4 linked regions of the Homo sapiens genome follow. The protein of the gene in region 2 interacts with the protein of the main gene of each other region in a pairwise test. Each region holds a gene or a part of one and is shown on either strand. Other genes may lie near its edges.

Evidence for each region. The genes of interacting proteins can lie anywhere in the genome.
Region 1: the proteins of DSCAM (region 2) and WDR59 interact in a two-hybrid assay, tested with the Homo sapiens proteins (one large-scale study listed by BioGRID and IntAct).
Region 3: the proteins of DSCAM (region 2) and MAP4K4 interact in a two-hybrid assay, tested with the Homo sapiens proteins (one large-scale study listed by BioGRID and IntAct).
Region 4: the proteins of DSCAM (region 2) and SUPT5H interact in a two-hybrid assay, tested with the Homo sapiens proteins (one large-scale study listed by BioGRID and IntAct).

The regions. Positions count from the first base shown.
Region 1 is NC_000016.10:74,887,624-74,891,123, forward strand, and holds part of WDR59 (GATOR2 complex protein WDR59), read right to left. Parts: intron 2,193-3,500; coding exon 2,080-2,192; intron 697-2,079; coding exon 546-696; intron 133-545; coding exon 60-132; intron 1-59. UniProt on the Homo sapiens protein: As a component of the GATOR2 complex, functions as an activator of the amino acid-sensing branch of the mTORC1 signaling pathway. The GATOR2 complex indirectly activates mTORC1 through the inhibition of the GATOR1 subcomplex.
Region 2 is NC_000021.9:40,077,425-40,081,366, forward strand, and holds part of DSCAM (cell adhesion molecule DSCAM isoform CHD2-42 precursor), read right to left. Parts: intron 2,917-3,942; coding exon 2,728-2,916; intron 1,554-2,727; coding exon 1,263-1,553; intron 1-1,262. UniProt on the Homo sapiens protein: Cell adhesion molecule that plays a role in neuronal self-avoidance. Promotes repulsion between specific neuronal processes of either the same cell or the same subtype of cells.
Region 3 is NC_000002.12:101,704,207-101,707,706, reverse strand, and holds part of MAP4K4 (mitogen-activated protein kinase kinase kinase kinase 4), read right to left. Parts: intron 1-3,500.
Region 4 is NC_000019.10:39,455,582-39,459,081, reverse strand, and holds part of SUPT5H (transcription elongation factor SPT5), read right to left. Parts: intron 1,408-3,500; coding exon 1,342-1,407; intron 789-1,341; coding exon 777-788; intron 265-776; coding exon 195-264; intron 78-194; coding exon 9-77; intron 1-8. UniProt on the Homo sapiens protein: Component of the DRB sensitivity-inducing factor complex (DSIF complex), which regulates mRNA processing and transcription elongation by RNA polymerase II.

The sequences.
Region 1 (3,500 bases), on a different chromosome or scaffold from region 2:
TATGCACAGCTCTGGGAGAACTAAAAATCCAGCGTGGGCTAAGTCATTTCCATACAAACCTATGTTCCAGCCGCCAGTGTTGAGCCCTGGGTCTGACATACTGGAGCAGGAACCAGAAGAGGTAAAGCTAGGCTACAGAAGGGAAGAGAAGAACCAACAGGACTAGCATGAGAATACCATTCCCCATGACAGTTCACATTAAGAAAACAGCAGGCCAAGCACGGTGGCTCATGCCTGTAATCCTAGCAGTTTGGGAGGCCAAGGAAGGTGGAACACCTGAGGTCAGGGGTTCGAGACCAGCCTGGCCAACATGGTGAAACCTCATCTCTACTAAAACCACAAAAATATACCAAGAGTGGTGGTGCATGCCTGTAATCCCAGCTATTCAGGAGGCTGAGGCACGAGAATTGCTTGAACCCAGGAGGCGGAGGTTGCAGTGAGCTGAGATCATGCCATTGCACTCCAGCCTGGGCAACAAAGTAAAACTCCGTCTCAAAAAAAAAAAAAAAAAAAAATCAGACAAAACCAGAAAAGGACAAACTTACATATCGACTATGGGACACCACAAGATTAGAAGAACGGTTAGGAAAAGGCCCAAAGGGGTTTGGTAGCCCCTGAGGCCGAGACTGGGCTTCAAACACGCTACAGAGCATCGCCAGTGTCTGAACATCCCGGAGCCGGCAATAGTGAGCCAACCTGAGGAAAAGATAAGAGGAAAGAAAACAAGTCAGGAGGAGGGATTGAGGAGGAAAGCGGTCACAGTCATGGCGTGTTACTGCCACAGGGGTGGGAAGGGAGGAGTCTTGATTCTGCCTCAAAAACCCATCAGGAAATGGGGCTTTCTACAGATCCGGCAGTTTGACCTACTTTGAGTTTGCCTAAACTTGTTTTGGAATATAAGGCATCCACGTACTACAAATGATCTACAGAACGCATCTCAAAGCCTCTGGCTAACTTTCAGGCATGGGCTTAAACATGAATGTGGCTTCTCCAAGAACTAAGTGGACTAACCTGACATCTGAGCGAGCCAATACATGCTCTGTCTTCCCAGCTCCAAGGAAGAATCACACTGCTTTTGGGGGATTCCCACACATGTCATTTATATAACCTAAAGCTACATGAAGGAGCTCAGAGGACACTGGACCGCCACAGCATGCTAGCAGGCAATCGACTCTGGAGGTGCAGTTATGAAGATGAGCTATTAGGTAAGAACAACAAGGAGTGTTTCTGTCCTTTAGGTACTCATATCCCCTTTGTCCTTTCAGGAAGATTATGCTAGAATGTGAGTAAGGAATCAGAGGGGCTTTGCCTTTAAGAATGAATAATATTAATGTCCTCCTATCACTCAATGTCTAATATTTGTGTTTTCACACTCACTATCTTATTTGAGTCTTACACGAAATAAGTAGAGTAAACCTTATCATCCCTGTGTTAGTGACAAGGAAACGGAAGCACGAACACGTGTCCCAGGGGTGGCCTTAATGCATAAATTAAGCAAACTTCAACTTGAAGTCAGGAGCGTTTCTCTCCCCAGGCCCTGGGCCTCCAAGTTATGGAGATTCAAGTGGTTTTACTTGGTGTTAAATTATTTTGTATAGTATACCCTAGTTTTCCATATGTCAGTGCAATAAACTGAACGCAAAGGCAATGTTTTCTCAAATTGCCTAACAGGGTGAAAGCGTCGTGGTCTTTGGCAAACATGAACACCAACATGCAATTCTCTAATCCATTCTCAAGGGTGAGACCCTAGAGCTTTCAAGAAGAAACTTACCATCTCATGAGCTCAAACTCCTGTATTCAGACTGATGTGATTTATGGACTAAAGCATGAATCTCTAAAGGATACATGAGTCTCAGGGGTCTCAAATCCTTGTTATAAATGACAAGTAATGTATGGTTCTGTCTGCTATAAGAAGTTTGTTCTGCACAGAAATTATTTCAGCACTGAAAGGAAAGATCCTACTCCTTCCTTTCATTCCTCGGGCCTCTGCACCTTTCTCTTAGGTGGTGACATTTCAAGTGTTTACAGACCAAAAATGGACATCACTCATTTTTCTCATTTTTAGCTCTCAAAACCTACAGGGACTCCAGCAGCTGCCGCCCAAATGGATGTCGAGCCCAGGGTGTTTCCAAATCTGGGTCAGATTTCGGACCAAGGCAAAGATCTGTAGCTACCGTAGCCAGCGACCAAACCTGGACAGATCAAAGAGAAATACAAACTCAAACTGGCAAGGACAAGAACCGAAACCATGAAGCAATCCCACCTGTCTTCCATATAAAACCTGATGCCTTGCTACATTGGGGGCAGCAAAAGCTGGATCCTTATTGAAATGCATAAGTTTAGGCCCCACTTAGACCTACTGAATCAGCGTTTACACTTTAACCAACTCTTTAGGGGAGTTATGTGCACTCTAAAGTTTGAGAAACACTAGGCTTAAAAATTTTTCATTAAGCAAACATCAGAGAAATGACACAGTGTAATAATTTCAGTGGGTCATCTACTTAACCACTAACTCATATGACTTTTTATTTTATTTTACTTTTTTGAGACAGAGTCTCGCTCTGTCGCCCAGGCTGGAGTGCCGTGGCACAATCACAGCTCACTGCCACCTCTGCCTCCTGGGTTCAAGCCATCCTCCTGCCTCAGCCTCCCGAGTATCTAGGATCACAGGCATGTGCCACCACACCTGGCTAATTTTTGTATTTTCAGTAGAGATGGGGTTTTGCCATGTTGGCCAGGCTGGTCTGGAACTCCTGGACTCAAGTGATCCACCTGCCTCAGCCCCAAAAAGTGCTGGGATTACAGGTGTGAGCCACTGCACCCGGCCTCACATGACTTTTTAAAATGCTGTTTCATCAGTAAGTTGGGTTGGCAGGGAGGAAAAAAAAGGCAGTCTATAACACATTTAAGATCTGTCCCTCTTTTCCTAAATAATGAAAGACTTTGTTGCCTTCATTATAAAAGTTTCAGTATCCTCTCTGAAGCTAAAAAGTAACAATAATAACAATAGGCCAAGACAAAATGGATTTGGCTTTCTTTTTGTTGACACCAAATCTGAGGAATACCTCCCCGACTTGAAATCCCATGGGGCCTGGAGCCATTGAGCAGAAACCAATAGCCTCTAAGTGTCTATTAAGTCCAAGGCACAGGCTAAACCCATCATGTCATAAGCAAAGTTCCCACCCCCTCAATACCTTTAAAAATCAAATACGGCGGGCCCTGTGGCTCACGCCTGTAATCTCAGCACTTTGGGAGGCTGAGGTGGGCGAATCACCAGGTCAGGAGTACGAGACCAGCCTGGCCAATATGGTGAAACCCTGTCTCTACTAAAGATACAAAAATTAGCTGGGCATGGTGGCACACGCCTGTAGTCCCAGCTACTTGGGAGGCTGAGGCAGAAGAATCTCTTGAACCTGGGAGGCAGAGGTTGCAGTGAGCCGAGATCACGCCCTGCACTCCAGCCTGGGCGACAGAGCGAGACTCTGTCTCAAAAAAAAAAA
Region 2 (3,942 bases):
ATCCCAGGCAATGTCACCTCATTAGCTCCTGGTGGTCATTTCTGTGGGTCCTTAGGTTCACAGCCACTCTTCTTAGGATGGCATAAACTGTGCTCCAAGGAGCTACCTGCTGGAGCTTTAATAAAGCGGCCTCCCAAATGCACAAAGTAAAGAAAGAATCACTCTCCTAGAGAGCAATGCTGATGCTTTTCATGGGCTGCCTCTGTCTAATTTTACAGCCCTCAGTTATGAGTGACTTCATTGAAAGGCATCCCCTCACAAAGCATCACCCACAGGTAGAGGAGCACTTCCAACGTGGTCTTGGCTTGGCTGTCAATAAAGGGTTTGGGTGTTTCTTGGTTAACTCATTCAACACTGTGGTCTAGCCTGACCAACAGGCAGTGAATAGAAGGCTCTGAGGAGAGTTGCACTGGAGTTCCAACTCATCCTGATGCATTGCTGCCGTTTTTACCTTGCAATTAGAGCACCTAACTCAATCCTTGCTGTTCCCCTAGTGAGAAATGAGCATCAGCCCGCTGCTGCTGGGACTTTCTAAAGTTCCCCTACTAAGTTGCAGTCGAGGACTCGCTCCTTTCAGCTTCACTGGGCTTAGCATTTGTTCAGTTAGCAATAAATGGCCCTTGATACCAGAAAAAATGAGTGAGATTTTAAACCATTTATTTTTGGTTAACTAATGTCAAGAGACACCTCACCTAGTTTTTGGAAAGTAAATGCAAGTGGCAAGTGTGTGTGAGTTTGTGTGTGTGCACGTGTTCATGGATTCCTATTATTATCCTATTTCCATCAGTGGCCCTGCTCCTGCCCAGAGACTAACATAAGCTCCTTTACCATGGAAAATTGTTTTTGCACATGCAGTTTAGGGTGTAATGAGTGCAAAAAAGAAAGTTGTTATGTGGATTGGGATGAGGTGGGGAAAGGGGTGGGAGACAACAAAAGCAATGTTAGCTCATAGACATCAACACAAGCACAGAACCACAGGGTCAAGAGTCCTTCAGCCCTAAGAGAAATCACTCCTGCCCCATGACTCCCCAGTGAGACTCCCTATGGCCCTGAGTCTCTTATTTCTGGACACACAGTGATGGTCATCTGGATATAACGAACTAGGGAGCCCCAGACAGAGTCCATTGAATCCCGAAAGCCTAATGGGCTCCGTGGGCACTGGTCAAACTATGGCAAAGATGATGTTCGATGGGAAAGGGGCAGGGCCCACGTGCACATCCCCCAAGACACAAGCAGGAGAGCCACAAAGCCAGCCAGCTTACTGCCATCGTAGTTCAGCGTAGCGAAGTTGGCCTGCTTCTCCGCGCAGCCCGCACTGTTGCACACCCGCATCTGCAGCTCATACCAGGTGGCTTCCTGCAGGTCATACAGGATGTAGGACTTGGAGAGAGAGGTCCTCTGAGCTGTGGTCCAAACTGTGGTCCCAAAGGGCCTGTACTCTAGTGTGAAGGAGGTGATGGGGCAGCCGCCATCATTCCAGCCAATGAGGTTCAGCCTCACGCGTGTGGTGTTGATGCTGGCAAACAGCTCCTGCTCCTTTGAGAACTGGGGCTCTGGGGGAGAAGGCACATGGAGGTCAGCTCACAGGACACATGGGGAGGCCATCAGCATCTTCACGCATTTCCCTCGGACTGCTTCCTCCAGCGAGGCCAGGAGCTCAGTCCAAGTCTGGCTCACAGGCCACTGGCAACTTGTCCCCTGTTAATAGAGACTTTATGGACCAACAGGCTTTCTCCAACTGTAATGACCTGGGTGTGTGACAGAAAATTGCATGGGTGGAGGTTATTTTGGGGTATCTTAGAGTTCCCTAAAGAACAATAGGATGTTCACATATGGGTTTCCTTCTGTGGTTTGCGGGGCAGTGTGCTGGGCACTTTTTCCATCCTCATGTGATGAACCTGATTCAAGAGAAGACAGAGTTGGATTTGGGAAGCACCAACAGATTTTCCTCCACAACTAAACACTTGGTCTTGGTGCCCAGGGACCTAAAGGATATATTTCTGCATAAATCAATCCCCGATCATTTGACCTCTTACCACTTGTTACCCAAAACTGTGGCACCAGGCACAAATAATACCCTTGCTATCTCATTACTCGCTCTCCTGCCATCTGACCCCACCCCACCTGGTAGGACTCCTATGGGAGGGAAGCCTGCAAAGACATCTCCTCACCTTCTTCCTATGCCCACATAGAGCTGCATCATCCCTCCTTCCTTCTGGAGTTCCTGGGACAAAACCTCTTTCTCTGAATATGATTTCTTTGGGATTCATCTCCTTGAAAGTCCACATTTTAGATTAAAAAAAAAACAAACGCAATTTACCCCATCATTTTCCCTCTGAAAAGCGGTGGCTATGTGGCAATGTGGAAATGATAGGAAGGTGGGAGCAAGGGTGGCTAAGGGAGAAGGGCGCCTCCAAACGGCTGAGAGGGCAAGCGCCACGCTTCATGGCTGCCCAGCCTTGGCACCTCACATTCACACCAACGCCCTTGATTTTCAAACTGACATTCTTCTTTTTAACTGCAAATGAAACAATAAAAGAGAGGACCAGAACACTCTGGAAGGTCCAGCTGTCCCTCTCATTATGCCGTGGCACTGCTGAAGCCATGTGAGGAATGACAAAGTTCAAACACATAAACGTAAAACATGATGGATCTTTTATGATTCCAATCTCCTCTTCTGGCCGGGAAAAGAAAGGATATTAAGAAGCGATGAGAAGGCATACCTACCTTTTCCTAAGGTCTTTGCTTCTATGATTTCACTTATGCGCCCTGGGCCCACTCCATTTTGGGCTGTCAGTGTGAACTTATACCAAGTCCCACATTTGAGATTTTCCAAGCGATAGGAACGTTCGCTGGGGCTGATTGGAAAACTCCCCCACTGCTCACTATTGTCCTCGGAGTACTGCAGTATGTATCCTGCAGAGAATGAGAAAGATTCACATGAGCACTGTGTTTGCTTTCTATGGGAAGTGGACTGATGCTTGCATTTTGTGTGGGTAATAGAACGAGCATTCTCAGAACTGAAGAATCTTCAGAAGGAACATTTTCGCTCTTTCTGATTCCAGGAAATGTAACCCAGCCTGGGAGAAGCACCATGATGTATTGATTAGTGAGTCATTTGGGCCACACCAGACATTATCACTGTGAAGTATTGCTGTTTTCTGCTCATTCTCTTCTAAAAGCCATATTGAGCAGCAGGGAATACTTAAGTTGCCAAATATCTGTCCCTCAGATCATACATGCCTGAATCCTTGAGTGAAGACATAGGCTGAAGCTGTTATTTTTGCAAGACACTCGAATCTCTGGGAAAGGGATACATTATCAATGGGAGTAGAGATTTCTTCAACTGCCTCACTCCTCATGTACTCCTGGTCTCACAGTTCACAGACACTAGGAGAAACAGCTCCAAGTCTTGCAGCCATCCCACTATTCTGACAGTAACCTGGCTTCTCTTTGGTTTGAAAAATTCCTCCAACAATTCATTCCCCCACATGAGCACTACCTCTACTTTTACAACTAGTAAGGATGACTGTCCACTCTAGAGCACTCACTCCATGCCAAGCCCTGTCCTAAGCCCTTTGCTTACAGTATTTCTGCAACCCTATGGAACAGTGACGACTCTCCCACAGAACACGTGGGACACTGAAGTCCAGAGCAGTTAAGCGGTGAGTCCCAAGTGCTGAAAGGAGGATGCAGATCCTGCAGTCAGCCTGAAGCCCATGTTCTTCACCCCTGTGAATGCTGAAATATTCTTCCTGTTAACTCCTTCAGCCCTGTTATCTGCAGCCATGTTCCTTCTCCACCCTGGCTAGCTGGCCTGGAACATGGTGTGTTTGCAACAACGGGTTGGTACCTTCTATTCCTGTCCTGTGGAGCTCCATTTTAATAAAAATAAAGCATTTTTTTTCCCTGCACACTACAGTGTCTCCTAAACCCAAATGG
Region 3 (3,500 bases), on a different chromosome or scaffold from region 2:
AAAAAAAAAAAAACAAAAAAAAAAAACTTAGCTGGACATGGTGGTGCACACCTGTAGTCCCAGCTATTCAAGAGGCTGATGTGGGAAGTTTGCTTGAGCCCAGGAGGTTGAGGCTGCAGTGAGCTGTGATCACACCACTGTACTGCAGCCTGGGGGACAGAGCAAAACTCTGTCTCAAAAGACACAGACAGACAGGCAGACCAGGGGCAGTGGTTCATGCCTGTAATCCCAGCACTTTGAGAGGCCCAGGCAGGGGGATCACCTGAGGTCAGGAGTTCGATAACAGCCTGGCCAACATAGTCAAACCCCATTTCTACTAAACGTACAAATATTAGCCGAGCATGGTGGTCCGCACCTGCAGTCCCAGCTACTTGGGAGGCTGAGGCAAGAGAATTGCTTGTACCCACAAGGCGGAGGCTACAGTAAGCCAAGATGGCGCCACTGCACTCCAGCCTAAGCAACAGTGAGACTGTCTCAAAAAAAAAAAAAAAAAAGATAAAATAAAAAGTGGATGGAGTAGTAACTAAGAGGTAAAAATTACAACCTAAGTGCCTACTAAAGGATACCAAAAAGAAGTGAGACAGTTGGACCTACAAAACCCTGACAAGGTCATCATTTGGAATAAACCAATACCAAGTGAGGTGCAAGGCCAAAATCAGAACTGATGAAAGTTTGCATATTTAGTGGTTGAAAGCCCCAGGTCCCCTTTCTCTGCCTTACACAGTCTGGTAACTGCCTCACATCACTCCATACCCACAGGAAACCAGAGATTTAGTCCCTAAAGAAATCGAAAGCAGTTATGTTCCAGACAAGAGAAGATGAGGCAGTGATAAGAAAAAGGGATTTTCAGCCATACAAGGACTTAAAACCTTAATACCCATATACCCTTTCTTTTAAAACTACTAGAGGATGTGCTTCAGGAAAGTAAGATAGTAAACCAAAAAGGAAGACTGCAGTATCCAGGAAACAGACATTCCAGGACAATAATAGCTACATGCCAGGTCCAGGGGCAACCATACCTGCATAGCTATGAGGAAACTCCAGGGAGAAAAAATTGAAATCAACAGGTTATCTTGCAACAATAAATTATCTGACGTGTGGTGTTAAATTAAGCATTTGGAAAATGTGATAAAGACTAAACTTTGTTAGGCATTTGTTATACCTTTTAGGGTATCTGAGGAGGAAGGTGATGATAGGTACAAAGAAAACTAAGCAAATGAAAAACTAAAAGCGATGTGGGGGCAGGGGTGTTGTTTAAAAAAGGAAATGTAATCGTATGAGACTGTTTAGCTCACATATAAATGGTATTTACATAGTCATGATAAAAGAAACAACTATCACTTTAACCCAAAATTATGGTATGCCCACTTAAGGGAGGCAGCAAGTATAGGAGTTAAATATTCAACTACTATTGAACTAACTAGTTCAATAACTACAACTACTGCTAGAGGACGTCAATAAATGTATAAAACTGATAAATGAACTAGCCACATAAGTACATAATTTACAAATATAGCAATAAATTTCAGATGTAGCAGCTAAAAGCACTGAAAACATGCTTCTGGAGAACAGGATGACTCTGACTTTTGGTATGAGCGCTTTAGTATCATTTGATTATAACTATCGATTCATAACTGGTAAGTTAAGGCCCTATTTATCATATGAAGGATTTTTTAAAGTTATAATGTAAAAGTGGGGTTTTTCTTTCATTTATTTAAATTTAATAGGATAACTTGTTCATATTTAGCCATATCTGAGACAGTTCCAAAGCACAGGGGTCAAAGACGTTTTGGCACTAAAGCATAAAGCTGTAAGCAGCACCTGCTGTAGCTCCCCAATGTTCAAAGGGTGGGAGAACCAAATACTAGGCACAAACAACAGTCCTCAATTCTCCAGCTCACTAACACACCAACCACCCACAGTTTACTAAGAGCCCTGCTACAAATTCAATCCTGCCAGTTCAGTGTTCCTCAAAGTGTGGTCTGCTGACCACAGCAAGATCATTTCTGAAATTAAAAGTATATAAAAACTTTTATATCACCTGAGTTTCTTATACTTTTTTAAAAAGAAAACAAAAACAAAAACTTTTACAGCAATTTGACATGGGAAAATGTCTTTTGATTCTACGAGTAAAAAAAGTAGACTGATATTCTATATGTCTACCTTTTCATTTCACTTTTCATTTGTTTTTACTGTAATTTAAAGCACAGAGAAGCCCTGCTGATGAGGTTGAGCCACTTAAAATGAACACATTGCAGTATGTGCTGTTTCCATGTGTCAGTGCATTCATTGTGTCTGAACACAAGTGTGCTGGGCAGGGAACCCAGGGAGATGCAGACAACACAGAATGTATGACTGACATCCCACAGCTGGCATTTTGTGTCCATCCCCCTGTTTTTCTTGAGTTCCATAAGGGTAGATATATCATCGGCTTCATTTACCACTGTGTATCTAACTCTCAGAACAGGGCCCAGCACACATCCACAGTACCTGCATGAAACCACCCTTATATGGTTAATCGTTTTTCACTTTTGTCTCCCCAATTTAGTTATACCTAATGCTATCTAGATAACAAAGTTTGTAAGAGTCCAGTTTTTAAAACGGGATGTCCTAAAACTTATCATTGTGATCATTCCTTAGAGATTCTTACAGACAAAAACTACCTCCCAATGAATCACTTTATTAATTACTCAACCCAAGAGGCAGCTTCTCTTCTGAATAATACTCACCAACTCTTATTACTGAACCTGCTCCATAACAAAAGAACAAATTCTGTTTGGTGAGCAGTGATATAACATTATAAAACCTAACAACCATTGCTGCCACAATGGTCACTGGTAATAAATATAAGATTACCTTGGCCTTCTCCATTTTCTTCCTAGTCATCTTTCCCTGTATGTCTAAAAACTTTACCCTGACTCGAGTTCGAGACCAGCCTGGCCAATATGGTGAAACCCCATCTCTACTAAAAATACAAAAATTAGCCAGGCTTGGTGGCATGCACCTGTAGTCCCAGCTACTCAGGAGAGTCGCTTGAACCTGGGAGGCAGAGCTTGCAGTGGGCCGAGATCACACCACTGCACTCCAGCCTGGGCGACAGAGCGAGACACCATCTCAAAAAAAAAAAAAAAAAAAAAAATATATATATATATATATATATATATACACACACACACACACACACATAAAATATTGGTTAAGAAAAAAGGCAAAATACGAGTTGAGTTTGCAGCTAGGCAAATAAATGTACATTTATCACAAAGTTTCAAGCAGTAAGGAGTTAAAAACCCATCATCAGCAGGGTTTTGTTTGGTGGTTGGCTTTTCTGTAGAGCTTTTGATGTTTGAGTTAGTAAAACAGTTTTTGAAAGTAAGGGTTGAAACTCTTTGAGAGCAGGGCTTGCTCAACAGGGCTGGCTTCCTCCCACCTTGTCCAAGTCCAGAATCTTCCACATGAAGGAAATCTATGTCTCAGAACAAGCCTGAACATGCCTCTCAGTG
Region 4 (3,500 bases), on a different chromosome or scaffold from region 2:
GCCCTTACGTCTCTCCCACAGATGACTTGGCGTATTTCTTCATGTAATACTCGCCCAGTTCTTCTTCTCGCTGGTCCCTGGAGCACGAGTGGGGAAGCAAACACGAATTGAAGGTTGAGGACAGCAGGTGGGCTGACCTACTCCCAAATCTCCCCACAGGAGCCAATCCCACCACGTTTCCCTTCCTTGCCCACCTCCAGAGGTTTTGCAGGCGGCGAGCCCCAGAACGATCTTCATCCAGGACAACATTATCGATATTGGAGGCTGAAAAATAATGGGCAGAGGGCGTGAGCAAGGGCAGGTGGAGGGCAGGGGCCTGGAGAAAATAGGAGCGTGCAGCTAAGAGGGCCAGGGTTTGGCCCTGGGGCAGGAAGATGACATCTCACAGAGGAAATCCCAACCCCTCATCCCCTACTCTGTCCTACTCAGCATCCTGCTTCTTGTCAAAAAGACTGGGGATGGGGCCCAGCAAGTTGGGGGGCTTCCAGCTGTTCCCATCTCAAAGTCCAGGCACACCCTGGACTGCACCCCACCCCACACATCGCTACCACCCACAAATGCTCAGTCCCAGACAGACACATCCGTGCTTTCCCAGGTCAACAACTGGGGTATACCTGGCCCCAGAACTCCCTGACTCTGGATCCTACATGGGTCAGAGCCCTCAGGGCCAGACCGGGGCTGGTGGGGAGGCTACCGGTGAGGGCAGGTGCCTCAGGAAGGAGGAAATGTCAGGATATGGGAGGAAGGTCAGGGAATCACACTTTTCATATTCTTACCTTCAATCTCTTCTACTTGGAGGAAGAGGAGGTGGTGGTGGTGGTGGTGGTGGTGGTGGTGGTGGTGGTGGTGGGCGAGGGCAGACAAAGTATGAGCCAAATTATAGCAGCAAAATCAACCAATGGGTTGGGGGAGGGGAAGGGAGGGACACAGAAAGGTTGAAAACCAAAAGTAAAGGCCAGGCACCAGGTGGTTGGGGAGAAGCCGAAATGTATGAGGCGCACAGAACGGAAAATAACGGGGAAAGGGGGGCACTGGCCCAGGAAGTGGGGGGTATCTTGGGACAGAGCTCGCCCACCCTACAACCCCAGAAGGGATTCACTGGGCCCTGGGATCCCAGAGTCCTCTCCCCACAACATCCCCACCCCAGGGCCCCACCCCCCACTCATGGGCCTAAAAGGAAAAAGCAGGGAGCTGGTCTCTCTGGGAAGGACAGAAAGAAGCAAGGTGAGGACGGTGGGAGTTGGGGTGTACAGGGGATGCGGGGGTCGGGGGAATGGGCTCTGAAGACCCTCTCAGCCACCCTCTTCCCAGTAGTCTTGTGGAGGCAGGGCTCACACACACCTTTCTCTAGAATGTCCTCTGCTCCATCCTCCCACTGGTCCTCGTCCTCATACTCATCGTCAACATCTAAAACGGAAAGGCCAAGTGGTAAGTGGCAAAGGTGACCTCATAACAGCTCCCAGGACACGAAGCATCTCCTCTGGGAGATGTGCACTACAAATCCCCACCGCACAGAGCAGGACACTGAGGCTCCAACAGGGAGGCACTCGTCTGGGGCCGTGCCACAGAGCTGGTGCACGCATCAGGATCGAGGGGGACATACAGCTCCAACTAACTCTAAAAGTCATCCCCTCTCCTTACTCCACTCCCAAATCCCTTTTAAAAAACTAAGATCAAAGTAAGCAAAAAGAAAAGTTCCCTCCCAACTATCAGAAAATGATCAATAAATAGTTTTTTAAAAGATGGTTCATGGTCTGTTGGTTTTATGATTCTTGTACATTTATAACAGCTAATGCTGAGAGCATACTATACACCCTGCCCTGTTCTGAGTACCTGACACAGGTTCCTCACTGATCTTCCTGGCAACCCCGAGGGAGGCACTATCGTTGTTCCTATTTTACAGCAAAGGCTCTGAGACCCAGAGAGATTAAGGAACTTGCCCACAGACTCAGCTGGGATCTGAGAGAGGCAGTCTGGCTCCATGGTCCATGTACTTAATCTCTTTACCATGTTGGATGTACTGCTTTGCAGGTATCAAACATTACACTAAAAACGTAATACATGCACATAATGAAAAACTCCAATGTCCATAGAGGATGTAAGTATCAATTAAGTCTCCCTCACATTTCTAACCCCTAGAATCTCAGTAACCTCTCCCAAAGGCAACTCCGTGACTAGTTTCTTGCCTAGAGATATCTGTGTACATATATGAAATCCATGTAAGGCTGGACGTGGTGGCTCACACCTGTAATCTCAACACTTTGGGAGGCCGAAGTGGGAAGATCACTTGAGCCCAGGAGTTTGAAACCGGCCTGGGCAACATAGTGAGACCTCCTAAATCCAAAAACTTAAAAAATTAGTTAGGGTTGGGCACGGTGGCTCATGCCTGTAATCCCAGCACTTTGGGAGGCCGAGGCGGGTGGATCATGAGGACAGGAGCTCATGATCAGCCTGGCCAACATGGTGAAACCCCCGTCTCTACTAAAAATACAAAAAATTAGTCAGGTATGGTGGTGGGCGCCTGTAATCCCAGCTACTCGGGAGGCTGAGGCAGAGAATTGCTTGAACCCGGGAGGTGGAGGTTGCAGTGAGCCAAGATCACACCACTGCACTCCAGCCTGGGCAACAGAGGGAAACTCCGTCTCAAAAACAACAACAACAACAACAACAACAAAAAAAAACAGTCTAGTCAGGCCTGGTGATGCACACCTGTGGTCCCAGCTACTCAGGAGGCTGAGGTGAGAGGATCACTTGGACCTGGGAGGTAGAGGCTGCAGTGAGCCATGATCATGCCACTGAACTCCAGCCTAGGAAACGGAGTGAGATCCTGTCTTTAAAAAAAAAAAGAAAAAAGAAAAAAAAAAGGTCTGGGCACAATGGCTCATGCTTATAATCCCCGCACTTTGGGAGGCCGAGATGGGTGGACCACCTGAGGTCAGGAGTTCGAGACCAGCCTGGCCAACATGGTGAAACCCCGTCTCTACTAAAAACACAAAAATTAGTGGCACACGCCTATAATCCCAGCTACTCGGGAAGCTGAGACAGGAGAATCCCTTGAATCCGGGAGGCAGAGGTTGCAGTGAGCCGAGATCACACCACTGCACTCCAGGGTGGGCAAGAGAAACTCCGTCTTAAAAAAAAAAAAAAAAAAAAAAAGAAGAGGCGGGGCGCAGTGGTTCACGCCTGTAATCCCAGTACTTTGGGAGGCCAAGGTGGGTGGATCATGAGGTCAGGAGTTCGAGACCAGCCTGGCCAACATGGTGAAACCCTGTCTCTACTAAAAATACAAAAATTAGCTGGGCGTAGTGGCAGGCACCTGTAATCCCAGCTACTCGGGAAGCTGAGGCAGGAGAAGCACTTGAAACCAGAAGGTGGAGGTTGCAGTGAGCTGAGATTGCACCACTGCACCCCAGCCTGGGTGAAAAAGCGAAACTCCATCTCAAAAAAAAAAAAAGAAGAAAAGAAAAGAAATGCATGTAATCCACCCCGCCACCACTATG